Homo sapiens: one gene and its partners. The protein of the gene in region 1 purifies or fractionates together with the protein of each later gene. This does not show direct contact. Each region holds a gene or a part of one and is shown in the gene's direction. Other genes may lie near its edges. The genes, in order: GSG1, IL37 and ASAH1.

Region 1 (3,751 bases):
ACTGACCAAGGGCTTGGCTGCCGACACCCTACCCATGGCTCTGTGGACACCAAACCTGGTGTCCAGCCTACACAGGCACCACACAGCCACCTCGCATTTGAAACTCTATTGTCTCTGTGGCAGTGGATGGAAGCTGGGCCCGACTGCTACCTCTCCCAGAACCATAAGCCCCATCTCCTTTCCAAAGGTTTCAATAGCCCCACATCCCAGTAGGTTCACTGCCCTCTTTTATCCTCCAGGCCCCAAAGCATCCATCTGCTTCCCCCGGAGATTTCCAGTTTAATATTCATTGCTATGACTCCTTTCAGAGGAATCTGTAATGCAGGGAAAAGGACACCAATAGCTCACTTTGTTACAATAGCAAATGCTTCAGCAAGTCAGTGCTACTACCTGTCAGTGAAGACAAAGCCAAAAACGATTATCACAAAGAGCATTTGGAATGCTCCCAATTCTTTTTTCTAAACTTTTATATAAAGTTTAGACTTTACATAAAACTTTTCCAGAAGTTATCAATTGCCTTGTCAATTATTAATTATATAATTATATATTTATATGTATTAATGTTATTTTACATAAAGTTAAAAGCTTATATAACCGGCCAGGCGTGGTGGCTTAACGCCTGTAATCCCAGCACTTTGGGAGGCCGAGGCGGGCAGATTACCTAAGATCAGGAGTTTAAGACCAGCCTGGCCAATATGGTGAAACCCCGTCTCTACTAAAAATACAAAAAAAAATTAGCCAGGCATGGTGGCAGGCGCCTGTAATCCCAGCTACTCGGGAGGCTGAGGCAGGAGAATCTCTTGAACCCGGGAACTGGAGGTTGCAGTGAGCCGAGATTGTGCCATTGCACTCCAGCCTGGGCAACAAGAGTGACACTCCGTCTCAATAAAAAAAAAAAAAAAAGAAAAAGTTTATATATCCTCTGACTGAGGTTATTGCTATCTGATGCTTATTCAGAACACCCTCAATTTACTCAGCAGTTTAGTGTTGAGTGTCTAATGTGTAAAATACTGTGCTAGTTGCTGTGGGAAAGATAAAAATTACAAAGACACGTTTTTGCTACCTAATGGCAGCTTGAAATCTTGGAGGGAAGATAAGACATGACCAAAAATAAATGTGAAAAGAGTACTATTAAGAAGGCACACACCACAGTCCTTGAAGCCCTTCCAAGCCTCACTTCCCATGGAAGGTGCTGGTTAGGGGACCTCCCTGAAGCAGTTGGGACTTGGGGTGAGCCTCAGAAGGGGCAGGACTTCAGTAGACAGGGCCTGGCCAGCAGTGGTATCAAATGTGCAGCAATCCACCTTCTCTCTCTCTCGCTCAATCTGCTGGTCCAAGAACTCCAGGTAGTGGCTGCTGGCAGATCCATCACTGCTACTCAGAAAGATCCCCCTGCTGTTTGTTGGTGGGGTCATTATGGCACTCACCATAAAGGTACACACACACACATACATCCTCCCTAGGATTTGCCGGCTGGAGGCTATGTTGATTCCACTCTCACCATTTGAGGCAGAAATGGAAGATTTTAACATACTCACTTCCAATTCACTCTGACTTCTGCATTCCTCATTCTAATTTGTCCTCTCTGGTGGATCACCTTTATCCTACTTCTGTGTATTGCTGCATATCATGCCCAGAGGCCAGCCCCTGTCATTCAATCTATGCAAATCACCACTTTTCTGTAGTTGGATCTGTGTAAGGTTCAACTTAAAGATGCATCATCCCCGTGTTGTGTAAAAGCCAGGGGAAAACTTTCCCTTTGCCCTCCGAAGGTTCACTGAAAACCACTGATAAGAGGCAGATTAATAGGAGAAAAAACATTCAAGTTTATTTGATCGTAGTTTCACGTGACGTGGGAACCTTCAGAATGAAGTCACAAAGATGAAGGGAAAATTGTCTATTTTTATGCTTAGGTTCAACAAAGTATGGACAGTCACATAGAAATATGATTGGACATCAAGGCCATGATCTATTGTTGTTATTTATTTTTTAGAGACAGATAGCCCTGTTGCCCAGACTGGAGTGCAGTGGCATGATCGTGGCTCACTGCAGCCTCAACCTCCTGGGCTCAGGTGATCCTCCCACCTCAGCCTCAAAAGTAGCTGGGACTACAGGCGTGCGCCACCGTGCCCGGCTAATTTTTTTATTTTCCGTAGAGACAGGGTCTCACTATGTTACCCAGGCTGGTCATGAATTCCTGAACTCAAGCGATCCTCCCACCTCTGGAAGGGATTACGGTGCTAGGATTACAGGCATGAGCCACTGCATCTGGCCTGATCTAATAATGTTAATAGATTGAGTGGGGAAACCCAGCAAGGGCTGCTTCTCCTTGGCCTCTCTGAGCGTGCATTTCTTCCTTCTGGGTGTGGGGCAGGACCCTCTCTGGAATGGGAGTCTTATGACCTACAGTCACACAAGCTAGGTCAGATAACCTCTTTAGGGCCAGTTTGGACACGGGAAGGCAGAGGGAAAGTTAGAGTAATATTTTTAGGTTTTATGGCTGGCTCTGGGGAAAGGGACTCTGGTTTCTACAACCCACCTTGAGAAAGAGGGATTCTAGTTTCTGTGGCTAGCCTTGGGAAAGAGTGGGACTGAGACAGGAGGACAGGAGAATGTCAGAGAGAGCTGCTTCTGAGGCCCCCATTTGGGCGTATGGTTTTCTTACGCCCTCAGGGTGCTTGCTGCAGACCACTCCTGAAGCGGGGCTTCCATGCGGCCCCTGGAGAAAAATGTCAGAGGCGGGTTGTGCCTATCTGCCTTGGAGGAGTATGGCTTGAGCGGAGGGAGTGCAGGGAAGGATGGCCACATCTCCGAGGCGGCTCTGAGTCAAGCTCCCCTGCTCCCTTCCCTTCCACTTGTGCTTGTCTATTACAGATGGAGCTCTCGAAGGCCTTCTCTGGCCAGCGGACACTCCTATCTGCCATCCTCAGCATGCTATCACTCAGCTTCTCCACAACATCCCTGCTCAGCAACTACTGGTTTGTGGGCACACAGAAGGTGCCCAAGCCCCTGTGCGAGAAAGGTCTGGCAGCCAAGTGCTTTGACATGCCAGTGTCCCTGGATGGAGATACCAACACATCCACCCAGGAGGTGGTACAATACAACTGGGAGACTGGGGATGACCGGTTCTCCTTCCGGAGCTTCCGGAGTGGCATGTGGCTATCCTGTGAGGAAACTGTGGAAGAACCAGGTAGCCTACATTCTGGGATATAAGAGCAACGGGGTCAGGGCGGGCAAGGGATCTAATGCAGGCATGGAAATCAGGTAGGCCCGCTTAGGGCTGGCGTTGCCCTGGAAGTGCAGCACTGCCCACACCCCAGTGGGCCTCACTCCCTTCTCCCAGCACAGAACCTTCCACCTCCGTCCAGTGTCCTTCTCTATAGGAGCCCCTTTTAATAAGGTTGAAAGTCCTCTGGATTTTCACTTCCTCCCTCTGTAGTAGACTTGTTGGTTCAAAATAGCATGTTAAAAATAGAATTAACCTTAAAAGTTTCATTTAGACCTTTCACATTATGAGAATTTCTGGTCTAGGGAGCTAGAATTGCTGTTTAGAAACAAAACGAAGGGAGAGGAATATTGTAGGAAAGCCCTAGCTCTGCTCAACTGTGACCTCATACAAGTAACTTCATTTCTTTTTTCTTTTGATATGGAGTTTTGCTCTTGTTGCCCAGGCTGGAGTGCAATGGTGTGATCTTGGCTCACCACAACCTCCGCCTCTCAGGTTCAAGCGATTCTATTGCCTCAGCCTCCC
Region 2 (3,751 bases), on another chromosome or scaffold:
ATTAGGAGATAACTCTGGGAAAGATGAGCCCGGGGAGGGGCAGGTGATGCTCACCTGCTAAGAGGCACAGGGCAAGGAAGAGTTTGTGCCTGGGAACCTTCCAGGTGCCTCTTCTGACCATAGCCAAGAGACTGGAGACACAGACCTCCTCCCAGCACTGAGGACAAACAGCCATGGGGCCAGTGGGGGTGCAGGGACACCCACACCACTAAGGGCTCAGGGCGGCGCCTTCAGAGCCTGAACCTTCCTCTCATGCTGCCATTTGAACACCACAACACCCTAATAGGAAACTGTTAACATTGCCACTGTTCAGGTGTGGAAACCGAGACAGACAGTGGAGATTCCCTGCCCTAGGTGACACAGGTAATAAGTGACAGATGTGGAAATTTAAAGGTACTATAACGTCTGTCTGCCTGACTCAGGCTTAAGGCTCCCATCACCTCCTCTTCTCAGGACAGAGTCAGGAGGCCTCAGCCTGAGCCCCAGCTCTAGTGCAGGTTCATGTGGGAATACTGAGCCTCACTAGTACAATGGCAGAGAGGACCAAATGGGACCAGGTGTGTAAGGGTGCCTGGCACAGTTGGGGGAGGCTGCTGTCACTTCTCCACCGCTGCTGCTGCAGTTACCTTTGATGTTTTAGTTTTGTTGTAGTTACACCATTGCTGGCTTTGGATCTGCACTGTGTCCACTCCAGGTGGAACCACGCACACAAGCCTCTCTGTCGGGCCTGTCCTGACTTCTCCTTGTCAGGGCTGGGATCTCCTTCAAATCTGGCGGAAGTGGTTCTCCAAGTCTGGTCCTCAAACGTCAGCAGCATCAGCGCCTAGAAGTGTTAGGAATACACATTCCCAGGCCCCACCACAGACCTCCTGCCTCAGAAACTCAGGGCGCTGAGGCTCTAGGGGCTGCTTTAACAAGACTTCCAGGTTATCGTGACGCACCTTGAAAGTCTGAGAGCTACTGCCCTACAGAAAGTTACTAGTGCCCTAAAGCTGGCGCTGGCACTGATGTTACTGCTGCTGTTGGAGTACAACTTCCCTATAGAAAACAACTGCCAGCACCTTAAGACCACTCACACCTTCAGAGTGGCCTTGAGAAAGATTTGGGGTCAAGGATCATGAGCGAGAACACCACTTAAGAGGATAGTGAACTAGTCTGCATGTGAGACGCTGAGATCCTATGTCAGGCTGTGATAGGAGGGAAACAGAAACCAAAGGAAAGAACAGCTTTAAGAAGCGCTTAAGAGGTACAAAGTAAAATGATGGTGCTAGAAAAGTAGCTTCTTAAAAAGAGCATTTTCCAGTCTCACCCTGGACTAACTGAATGAGAATCTCAGGAGTGTGAGGCCCAGGTATCCATGGTCTTAAAATGCCACCCACCAGGTGATTCCCAGTGTGCACCAGGGGTGAGAGTCACAGCCTTAGGCCATGCCACTCAAAGGGTGTCTTCAGACCAGCAGCACCCACAGCTCTGGGAGTGCATCAGAAAGACAGAGGCTTGGCACCACCCACACCTACTGAACCATAGTTTGCAGGTGATTTCTTGCACATTAAAGTGTGGGAAATGGAAAAGCTTAGAGTTCAGCTAGCTCGGTGACTCTCAGTCAACCTGCACCTGCTCCATGAACTCAGACTGCCTGGGATGGGCCCAGAAAAGCTCCTGAGGAGATTCTGATGTAAGGCAGGGCTGATAACCATGGATCTCATCTGACCCCATATCACTGGGGAGTTACTTAGGATCTTGCCTGGGGCCAGTCATCTCTTCCATAGACACTGAGAGTGTCCACGATGCTTGGGGCACTACAGGGTGGGAGGTGGAGGATCACGGGTGAGTCAGATAGGAAGCCTGCTCCTGGGGAGCTTACAGTGCTATAGGGCAGCGAGCCAAGGATGCCAATACCTGTGTGCAGGTACCACTGACGAGTGCAGAGCGCTGCAGCACCAGAGAGGAAGCTACCCTGTGCAGAGGGGGCTGAGGAGGGCTGCAGGGAGATGACAGGAAAGCCGGTGTTACAGGAGGAGTCCTCCCCACTCTTTGGGCATGAGGAGACCAGGAGGACATTCTACAGTGAGAAACCCAGGCAGAGGCCATGTGCTTATGGCATGGGAAAAGAATGACACCTTAGACTTATTCTCTACATTAGAATTGCCTACCACAGATACCCATATTATAGCTTCACATAGTGTGGTGGTTACTGTGTTTTCATATTGTCACATTTGCCATTTTCCAGCCACCCACCCATTCTTGACAGTCACTGGCCCAGCCTGGGGGCCCCTGTTCTTTATCAAACAAGTGCCTGAGCTCTTTGCAGAGGTGAGGGTCACCTGTCCAATCAGAGGCCAGGAGGGAACGTTCCCTTTTAAGACCCTACTCTAGGCAGGCCTGGCCCAAATGAGTTGCTAGGAGCCCACGCCCTAAGAACCCTCTGAGCACTGTTGTGGCTGGTCCTGCTGCTAGAAGTTGTTCCTCCAGGGCCAGGTGCAAGATTTGTGGCTTTTCAAAGGAGCCACTAAAGCTCCAGCTCAGCCTTGCACCGTGCTGGGCTCCTGGGGGCTTCCTGCCTCCAACCCTCCCAACTCTTCCATCACCGCTCCCTTAGCCTGGCCAGTGCAGGGATCTGTTCCACTCTAGGCACTGCTGAGGGAATGATGCCTCCAGTCAGAGGGTGCAAAAAAGAGAGTTAAGAAAAACAATGATTATAAAAAGTCCTTTTTATACGCCAGACATTTTCTTTGCTCAGGCTAAGTGCTACTTATTTGAGTAAGCATTTTAGTTCTCATAACTCCTCTCTCAAGTAGGTGCTGCTATTACTTTCATTTCACAGATGAGGACATTGAGGTTTGGAGAGACTTAGTAACTTGTCCTCTGTCCTACAGCAGAGCTGGGATTTGAATCTATCTGTCCAAATCTGGAACCCATTTGCTTGCACAGAAAGCTTAATTGCTTGTCCCAGCAAGATAGAAAGCCTGGGAGTGGAAGAAATATTCAGTGGCTGTGATGTCTGAGCCCACAGGCAGGGTGGAGAGCTAGGGCTGGGGCCCTTGGACGTGGGGAAGAAAGGGCTGAGTCTTCCATTTTCAATGTGAAGTGTTGATATCTGGTGATATTGATCTAGGTCCAAAGGTGAAGAACTTAAACCCGAAGAAATTCAGCATTCATGACCAGGATCACAAAGTACTGGTCCTGGACTCTGGGAATCTCATAGCAGTTCCAGATAAAAACTACATACGCCCAGGTGACTCTCAGTTTTGGCTGTGTTTTCTGCCTCCACCTAGCAGGGGTAAGGCCTCCTGCTAGGTGGGCTCAACTCCATGCTATACCATGCCCCATCTCCAGCAGGTGGTGGAAGCGAGGAGGAGAGGCCCCAGGGACTAGGGCATCAGATGAAGGGTCTCTAGCAATGACCAGATCTGAAAGTAGTCTTTCTGGAAGGGCTGGAGAAAAAGAAGGAGGCAGACACTTAGACTGGAAGAAGAGGAGGCTTAAACCAGTGTGATGGAGGGAGAAGTGGACCACAGAGTCAAGGGAGAGGGACTGTGCATCAGGCCTGAAACCCCAGCAGACAGGAGAGACCTTTCCCTGCTCTCAGAACCCACACATGTTCTGACTGTCTTTTTCCAGAGATCTTCTTTGCATTAGCCTCATCCTTGAGCTCAGCCTCTGCGGAGAAAGGAAGTCCGATTCTCCTGGGGGTCTCTAAAGGGGAGTTTTGTCTCTACTGTGACAAGGATAAAGGACAAAGTCATCCATC
Region 3 (3,751 bases), on another chromosome or scaffold:
TTCCAGGAAACATGGGGAGGGGAAAGCTTGGGGGCTAAAGAATGAGGATCGTTTTCATTTGGGGTGTATGTTAAATTTCAGGTGGCAGAGAGGCATCCAGCAGGCCACTCGGACTGGCACTCAGAAGAGAGACACTGAGAGTCACTGGCATAATGATATTATATTTGAAGCCCTTGGAGCAGATGAACTTACCTAGAAATAGGATAGAGAAAGAGAAGAAAAGAGAACTAGGCAAAGGCTAAGTAACTTGCACATGTATGTGTCAAGAAGAGGAGAAATTGCCAAAGTTAAAACAGGACAGGCCGGGCGCGGTGGCTCATGCCTGTAATCCCAGCACTTTGGGAGGCCAAGGTGGGCAGATCACGTGAGGTCAGGAGTTTGAGACTAGCCTGGCCAACATGGAGAAACCCTGTCTCTACTAAAAATACAAAAATTAGCTGGGCATAGTGGCTCACGCCTGTAGTCCCAGCTACTCAGGAGGCTGAGGCGGGAGAATTGCTTGAACCTGGGAGGGAGAGGTTGCAGTGAGCCAAGATCCTGCCATTGCACTCCAGCCTGGACAATGAGCGAAACTTCGTCACAGAAAACAAAAACAAAAAAATAGGAGAGTAAGTGGAACAGGAAGCTCAGGGAAGAGACTGGGACAGGTTAACTATGTTGAATATTATTGAGATGTCAGTGGTATTATGATGTTGGGCAACTGGAGGTCATTGGTCACCTCGACTGGAGCAGTGTTGGGGGCAGAAAACAGCTTGCGGTAGGCTAAGTGTGATTGGCAGGAAAGGAACTAGAGGGGAGAGATGGCTGCTCTGCGTAATAAATCTGACCCACTTCATAAGATGTGCGAAGATGAAACGTAATGGCTTAGTAATTAATTGCCAAAGTAAACTTGTAAACTCATTTTTATGCATCAGCTTCTCATACTAGTTAACAGCGTATGTCAACATTGTTGACATTAGCTATTGAATCAGCTTTAGCAATGATTTTCACGCAGTTGCCAGAAATCTCATAGACCCCATCTGGCCTAGGAATTTATTGCACTTCATCTGCTTTTCCCTACTTCTCCCAAAGAGGGAACACACAGGTGTAATCCATTCACTTATTCAACAAATACTGCTTGCCTACTATGTGCCAGACTCCTAAACGCTGGGAATGCGTCAGCCAATGAGATAGATGAGGTCCTTCCTCTCATGGAGGGTTTATTCACATTCCTTTGACCTAAATATCAGTAGCTTAATAGGATGCCATCCCATCAAAGCCCAGAAGACAAGTGAAAACATTTTCAAGCTCATGTGAATTCTTGTACACGTAGGAAACATGCCTCTTTGTATTCAGTGTTTCTGCTGAGTTGTACATAAGAGGACATTATAGGAAAAACTTGTCTGCAAAATAGTTGTTGATGAATTCAAGAATTGAATGAATGAAAAATTGTCTGGCTAGAGTTGTTTGGCTTCTGGTGGGTATGAAAACTGACATGAGGTATGTAATTTTAGATTATCCTTCATTGTCTCTTTCTGAGTATTTCAATAAGACAAGCACACAAGGGCTTTCTGGACTTTTAAAATTCACTATTAGAAGCATACATTATTTCATTGAGGGTCTCCTAATTCTTTCGGGCTCAAATATTTTAAGGAGCTGTACAAGTTATGCCATTTTTTAAGGGTATGGCGCTTTCATTGAGACCTTAATGTTCTCTTTATATTTTTGTGTTTTTTTTAGAATGTTGTGTTCAGTAGCTCTGTAATTAATTTCTCTTAATGAATGGGGAGGACATTCAAAGAGGCTTAAGTTTCTATCAAATAACCAGAAAAATTAGAGAATTTTCTGACCCAAACAGTCTTTTAAAAGCACTTTCCAGAGAGTTTTTTGTTTTTTTTTTTTTTCTGAGATGGAGTCTTGCTCTGTCTCCCAGGCTGGAGTGCAGTCACACTATCTCGTCTCACTGCAACTTCCACCTCCCGGCTTCAGGCAATTCTCCTACCTCAGCCTTCCGAGTACCTAGGATTACAGGCACATGCCACCCAGCTAATTTTTGCATTGTTAGTAGTAACGGGGATTTCGCCATGTTGGCCAGGCTGGTCTTGAAGTCCTGACCTCAGGTGATCCACCCACCTCAGCCTCCCAAGGTGCTGGAATTACAGGCATGAGCCACCATGCCTGGCCCAGAGAGTTTCAAATGCATTGAAATATCAGATTTTTACCACTTATCTTCACTCTTAGGAGACCACTGAGGGGCAGGGAGAAAGGTAGGGAAGGGCAGGGAGAGAGAGAGAAAGAGAGGTACTGTGGGGAGAGGGTTAGAGAGAATTGATTCTAAGTTGGATTTTGTTTCCTGTGATAGGGTGTACATAGTATACCATCCAGACCACATAATCTCTCTTCTTATCATCTGTTTCTAATCTTTACCTATCATCTATTTAAGTTTTTACCTGCCTTAATAGAGTTGTCTGTTATTAAACTGTTTATAAACTTGGGGATAGTAAGGAACTTTAAATAACATTAAGTAAGTTCATTATAATTCTGTTTTAGGGCTACTCGTGGGTTTTGAAGCTGTGTCTCCCTGTAGAATTCTTTTTTGAGGGGGAGGAAGTAGCTCTTTTTTCCACCCTACCCCTAAAACTAACCTTTTTGCATAAACGACTTAGGCGTTCATGCCATGTGAGCCCCTGAAATACTGTAGTCTCATAGCTGCCAACTTTCTTATTTTCTGTCACACTTATCCTATTTCCTTGCAGCCAGGTTCTATGCCAATTTCACGTTTGTTTATTGCTACCAAGAGTCGTTATCAACCTCAGACTCACTCCACATGTATTGTTGCTAGCTTGCTCTTTAGTTCTTACCTCTGGGGCAGGTCACATTCTCTCCTAATACTAGACAGAGCATTTTCAACTTTGCTCACAGTTGTCTAGTAAGAAATGTGCCTGTAATTTGATGTTTATTTTGGCTTTGGAACCCAGGGCGTGCAAATGTCATTATTAGGAAGGGATAGGAGTCATTACGTTTCACTTAATTTGCCGAGTTGATTCTAGTGATCACCAGAAGCCCTGAACTACGCGCAGATTATTCTGTTAGGAATTAAATTGAGGCATTGGTTTTATTATCTCTGTGGGAAGCTGTTTGATAGAACAGGGAAAGCCATTGACTCTGATTCTGTCACCAGCTGTGTAACTTTCTACAAGTCACTAATGGAGCAGGGTCTTAAGTCCACAACATGATCATAAAATTAAGCACTTGGGTTAAGTACCCATCACAGTATTCCCAACTCATAGGAAAACAATGGTCAGATAAACAAGAAAATGTAAAGCGGAGTATCTCCTCACAGCAGAACTTATTTACAAATTTTACAAAGTAAAATTAAGTTGCAACCCCTATAAGTCTCTAAGTAGCTCATTTATTAGCAAAATAAGGAAAGCCATTTACCAATGGTGGATTACCTAAATTGTATTCGATTGTAGTAGCAGAAGTATTGTGTCCAGGGAAAATGAAATTATTTTACATGTCATTGAGAACCCTTGTCCTGGACTTTGGGAAGAACATCAATATCAATTAAAGAACAAAGCATGTGATTTTTGAGTGATTTTTCTTGACTGTCAACATACCGATAACTGATCAGTTGTTGATATTTATTAGATGATCATTGCCAAGTTTGAAGTGACTGAAGAGTTAGCCTCTGAATCATCTGTATAAAACAACTACAGGCGAGGATGTTTTCGAAGAAGCTGAGAAAATAATGATTGAGTATAACCTGGAA

What was found.
Region 2: the proteins of GSG1 (region 1) and IL37 purify together in Homo sapiens (affinity purification with mass spectrometry; 3 studies listed by BioGRID and IntAct, with this or other methods). This does not show direct contact.
Region 3: the proteins of GSG1 (region 1) and ASAH1 purify together in Homo sapiens (affinity purification with mass spectrometry; 2 studies listed by BioGRID and IntAct, with this or other methods). This does not show direct contact.

What each region holds. Positions count from the first base shown.
Region 1 is NC_000012.12:13,089,942-13,093,692, reverse strand, and holds part of GSG1 (germ cell-specific gene 1 protein), read left to right. Parts: intron 1-2,874; coding exon 2,875-3,190; intron 3,191-3,751. UniProt on the Homo sapiens protein: May cause the redistribution of PAPOLB from the cytosol to the endoplasmic reticulum.
Region 2 is NC_000002.12:112,914,014-112,917,764, forward strand, and holds part of IL37 (interleukin-37), read left to right. Parts: intron 1-1,179; coding exon of another isoform or gene 1,180-1,246; intron 1,247-3,115; coding exon 3,116-3,235; intron 3,236-3,621; coding exon 3,622-3,751. UniProt on the Homo sapiens protein: Immune regulatory cytokine that acts as a suppressor of innate inflammatory and immune responses involved in curbing excessive inflammation.
Region 3 is NC_000008.11:18,077,407-18,081,157, reverse strand, and holds part of ASAH1 (acid ceramidase isoform a preproprotein), read left to right. Parts: intron 1-3,751. UniProt on the Homo sapiens protein: Lysosomal ceramidase that hydrolyzes sphingolipid ceramides into sphingosine and free fatty acids at acidic pH.